Linked DNA regions of Homo sapiens: region 2 is linked to region 1. The links come from fine-mapping of genetic effects on gene expression. Tissue or cell type: subcutaneous fat. Region 1 holds a variant in brackets; the other region holds the start of a gene. All regions are shown on one strand. Distances are from middle to middle.

What was found. PIP is the estimated chance that this variant, and not a neighbour inherited with it, causes the effect.
Region 2: it holds the start of LINC02235, and the variant in region 1 is fine-mapped to the expression of LINC02235 in subcutaneous fat (FUSION, PIP 0.95).

Annotation. Positions count from the first base shown.
Region 1 is chr8:81,776,633-81,779,394 of GRCh38, forward strand. No RefSeq gene overlaps it. Among named protein-coding and RNA genes, the nearest start is that of CHMP4C, 46 kb to the left of the region's middle. The variant C/A (reference allele first, on the strand shown) is at 1,499.
Region 2 is chr8:81,840,954-81,843,560 of GRCh38, forward strand. It overlaps LINC02235 (long intergenic non-protein coding RNA 2235), which reads left to right and starts at 1,666. Exons shown (of 8, transcript NR_170320.1): 1 at 1,666-1,718. SNX16 (sorting nexin 16) reads right to left here and starts at 1,232. Exons shown (of 8, transcript NM_152836.3): 1 at 1,169-1,232. RefSeq lists enhancers at 306-1,238, 1,166-1,215, 1,647-1,916 and a silencer at 786-835.

The DNA.
Region 1 (2,762 bases):
GAGAGCCTTTTCTTTTCTTCTCTTCTCTTAAAATGTTTTTCTTTTTAATTGCTTTAAAGGTATTTAGAAAAATAACAAATAAGATGTGGATCAGGCTTGTGTTTAAGAAGAAAAAATATCATTGCTAAAATTTTGGGTTTCTAAAAGCGTTGTTAAATAAAACAAAGCTTAAACTTAGAGAACGTTTGTGTCCTGTTTGAAGTAATTAAACTTACATTTATTGACTTGATCTTAAAACCATGCACTTTAGAATATAATTTTCCTGCCCCTTCATGGCCAATAGACTAGATTGTGAGGTTCTTGAGGGCAAGTACCCTAAACAAATGGCACCAACCAAATAAACAAAAAAACAGATGAAACATTTGTTGTTTTTTTTGTTGAGTGCCTGTGCTCAGTACCTATGTTTTTCTAGCTGTGTGAGTGCCACAGGATTCCCTGGGGAGCAGAGTCTGAGATGGAGAGAAGAGTGCATGAGGCTTGTTAAGGAGTGCTTTTGCAATTGCAACAACAGCAAAAATTGACAAATTGGATCTAATTAAACTAAAGAGCTTCTGCACAGTAAAAGAAACTATCAACAGAGTAAACAGACCAACCTACAGGATGGGAGAAAATTTTCACAAACTATGCATCTGACAAAGGTCTAATATCCAGCATCTATACGGAACTTAAATTTACAAGGAAAAAAAAAAACTCCATAAAAAAGTGGGAAAAGGACATGAACAGACACTTTTCAAAAGAAGACATACATGTGGCCAACAATCATATGAAAAAGCAGCTCAACATCACTGATCATTAGAGAAATGCAAATCAAAACCACAATGAGATACCATCTCACACTAGACAGAATGACTATTAAAAAGTCAAAAAATAGCAGATGCTGGTGAGGTTGTGGAGAAAAAAGAATGCTTATTCACTGTTGGTGGGAGTGTAAATTAGGTCAACCTCTGTGGAAGACAGTGTGGCAATTCCTCAAAGACCTAAAGACAGAAATACCATTTGACCTAGAAATCCCATTACTGGGTATATACCCAAAGGAATAAAAATCATTCTGTTATAAATATACATGCACGTGTGTGTTCATTGCAACACTATTCACAATAGCAAAGACATAGAATCAACCTAAATGCCCATCAATGATAGACATGATAAAGAAAATGTGGTATATATACAATGGAAAACTATGCAGCCATAAAAAAGAGTGAGATTACATCCTTTGCAGGGACATGGATGAAGATGGAGGCCATTATCCTTAGCAAACTAACACAGGAACAGAAAACTAAATACTGCACGTTCTCATTTATAAGTGTGAGCTAAATGATGAGAACACATGGGCACAGAGAGGGGAACAACACACAATGGAAACTATTGAAGGGTGGAGGGTTGGAGGAGGGAGAGGATTAGGAAAAATAACTAATGGGTACTAGGCTTAATACCTGGGTGATGATATAATCTGTACGACAAACCCCTATGACACATGTTTACCCATGTAACAAACCTG[C/A]ACATGTACCCTGAACTTAAAATAAAAGCTATAAAAAAGAGTGCTTTTAGCATTGATGTCTTTTAAAGAAAGAGAAGGATGAGATTGGATAGAGGAAAAGTTGTGTCTCAAAGGAGGCCTCTGAGCTGACCTCATGAGATACTCTGAATTGACAACTCAGTTGAGGTAATCTCTCATAGGGGTCAGTCACTGAATGTGCCCCAAAGGACATAGCCTTGGGTAAAGAGTACCATGGACAACAGTCCACACAGAATAGGCAGTAAGGCCTTTTTCTCTTTCTTTCTTTCTTTTTTTTTTTTTTTGAGACAAGGTCTTGCTCTTGTCGCCTAGGCTGGAATGCTATGGCGTGATCCCATGTCACTGCAACCTCCGCCTCCCAGGATCAAGCAATTTTCCTGCGTCAGCCTCCCGAGTAGCTAGGATTACAGGTGCCCCCCACACACCCAGCTAATTTTGGTATTTTTAGTAGAGATGGGGTTTCACCATGTTGGCCAGGCTGGTCTCAAACTCCTGACTTCAGGTGATCCATCCGCCTCGGCCTCCCAAACTACTGGGATTATAGGCGTGAGCTACTGTGTCTGTCCTGTCTTTTCTTGAAGGAGGATTTGGAAGGTACATTACAGCTTCCGCCATGGTGACCTCAGATAATTTAACTTTGTTGACCCTTTGTTGACTTTGTTGGCCCTCATTTTCTTCATTTATAAAACAAACATTAAAAATATCTTCATAGGGTCAGTATGAAGATTAAATATAGCCATACATGTAACACCTTTGTAGTGCTTAGCAGAGAGTAAGAAGTGTTCTCCATTATCATATTTTCTCAACTTCTCCAACAAATATAACAATCTGTCTGTAGGGCATTAGGTTTTCAGAAATGAACATCAACAGTTTCTGCCCTCAAGAAGTCTAGTAGGGGAAGAGGCAGACACATAAAGACAATGGAATGCAATGTGATCCTTGTTCTAATGTTGCCCACATGCCTTAAGCTGACCTCCTGGATGACCCGTTGCCTAAGCTGAGGACTGAAGGAACTAGCCTGAGGAAGTGGTGAGCAGTAGCTAAGGCAGGGAGGTGTGGAAAGGAATGTTGATGTCTAGAATGGCTGGAAGATTGGGTGAAAAATGGCGAGTAGGAAGAGATGAAGCTGGGAGGTTCTAGAAGCCAGATGATAAAGGTCTTGATATCCTCATGTAGGAGTTTCGATTTAGGATGAAAGCTCTGGGGAGTCAACGAAGGATTTTTAGGTGGTGATCAATTTGCATTG
Region 2 (2,607 bases), 64 kb after region 1:
ACAACAATAACTGCCCAACTTTTCATACGAAACTCTACTGGTGGGAAAGGTAAGAAATGAGTCACCTGGACTTGGAAAGATGCTGAAATAAGATTTTTAACTCTGGGCTGGGCGCTGTGGCTCACGCCTGTAATCCCAGCACTTTGGGAGGATGAAGCGGGTGGATCGCCTGAGGTCAGGAGTTCGAGGCTAGCCTGGCCAACATGGTGAAACCCCGTCTCTACTAAAAATACAAAAATTAGCCGGGCATGGTGGCGCAGGCCTATAATCCCAGCTACTTGGGAGGCTGAGGCAGGAGAATCGCTTGAACCCGGGAGGCGGAGGTTGCAGTTTGCCGAGATCGTGCCATTGCACTCCAGCCTGGGCTACAAGAGGAAAACTCCGTCTCAAAAAAAAAAAAAAAAAAGATTTTTAACTCAAGTGGCTCTCGGCAACATTTCCCCATTATCAAAGATTCATGAAACTTTAGCTGCTGATTCACCGCTCCTCGGTTCCGCCTGACGGCCTCCCCAAAAACAAGTAAGTCTGAAATCTCAACCTTCTCAAGGTCCGAGGGATCTACCTGGCCTTTGCCACTCTACTACCTGAGGCCGCCTGGCTGGGGGGAGGTCGCATATCAATACATATCAACACAACCACTGACGTCCGAAGATGTGAGCGCTACCCAAGCGTTAAAAAAACAAAACAAGCAAACAAACAAACAAAAAAACGTGCTGTGCTCATTAGGAGCGTCTTCGCCTCTACCCTGATGCGGAGTTGCTCCCAGGACGCTCAGTTCATTCTCACTCTGGAAAACCTCAGGTGAGGTGGCCCGACTCTGAGCAACCCCGTGGGCGGGAGGAAAGAGGCAAATACCAGGCACAGTTCGACCCTCGGAAGGTAAGGCCGGGGTCTGCGCCGGTCACGGGTCTTCCGCACTGCAGGCGGCGAGACCCGCAGCTCCCTGGGATCACAGACTCTCCCGCCTCCGCTGACCGGTGCGCGCCCAGCGCCTCCCAGACGCACAGTGGGGTCGGCGGTGGCCTGAAGGTGGCTGGGCTTCCTGCGGCGCCTCTCCACTCTCCCGCGGAGCCCCTTGCCGCCCGCCAGACATCAAGGTTGCAGGTGTCACCCGTACGAGAACCCGGGACAGCGACCGCCTGTCCTGAGGTAATGACCCAGTCTTTACCTCAGCCCCCTCGGCGATCCCGAACGAGCGCGCTTCCCGGTGACGGTTAAACCGGACTCTCCTTAACCGCAGCTTTTCGCCTCCTCCCTCAGCAGCGAGAAGCCTCACGTGACACCCCCGCCCCAAAAGCAGCTGCTCCCCGCCTCAGCCAGTCTCTGCCCGGGCCCAAGATCCCTGCTGTGTGGAAGGAGGGGCCGAACTGGGCGGGGGGGGGGGGGGGGGGAGAGAGAGAGAGAGAGAGGGAGGGAGGGAGGGAGGGAGGGAGAGAGAGAGAGAGAGAGAGAGAGAGAGAGAGAGAGAGACAGAGACAGAGAGAAAGAGAGAGAGAGAGGGCAAGAGCGAGAGACAGAGAGAGAGAGAGAGAGAGAGAGAGAGAGAGAGAGAGAGAGAGAGAGAGAGAGAGAAAGAGAAAGAAAACGAGCGAGGGAGAGAGCGAGAGCGAGAGAGAGAGAGAGAGAGCGTCACACACACATCTCTGCCGGAAGTGATGTCACGGCATGGGCGCCCGCCCACCGGAGGAGCGACTGGAGTTGATCGGCTGGGCGCTCAGGTAGCGAAGATAAATGTAATCTTGTGGCAGGAAATCGACATTCTCTGCACTATCTTTAGTTTTCCAACTGAACTTCTGAGAAATGGAGGCTACAATACCTAGTTTGCCAAACAGGAGAAGACTACAATTCCCAGAAGGAACTGCGACCAACATTGGTCCGTGCTCATACTTTGCATCATGGGACTTGTAGTCATCACCAGCTTGCGCTGATTCTAACAGGTTATAGATTGTTTTCTAGAATTAGCAGCGCTTTAAGGGATGACAATCGATTAGAAGAGTAGGAAGATAGAACACTGCTTAGTAGCTGATCCGTTCTACATAATTCAGAAGTTCTCATTGGCAGAGAACCCCTGAAATTCTGTAGTGTCTTTTTACTATCCGGTGAGCAATTTGATCCCGATGATGGAATATTAGCCTTGTTAGACATGCGCTTCTGAAGACCTGTGCAGTAGGGAAAGCCGAGTTTTTTGATAGGCAAATCCCAAGATTCAGACCGGTCTACAGGTCTGTTCATCATTAGAATCAGATAATGTGGTTGAAAAATCATTCCACGATTTCTAAGGCTTTTGTATAGTCCCAATGTTACCCATGGAGGGTCTTGACTACAAGTCATCCAGGTTCTTGGTTTTTTTAACAAAGAATTGGACAAAACGCACAAAGAAAGCAAGGAAAGAATGAAGCAAGGAAAGCAGAGATTGAAATGACTGTACACTCCACAGAGTGGGAATGGCCTCCAGCCAGTGGCTCAAGAGCCCTGGTTACAGGATTTTCTGGAGTTTAAATATCCGCTAGAGATTTCCCATTGGTTACTTGGTTTACACCCTCTGTAAATTAAGGAGTAGCCTGCAACCAATCAGAGGCTAAAGTTAAGTTACAAAGTTGTACTCCT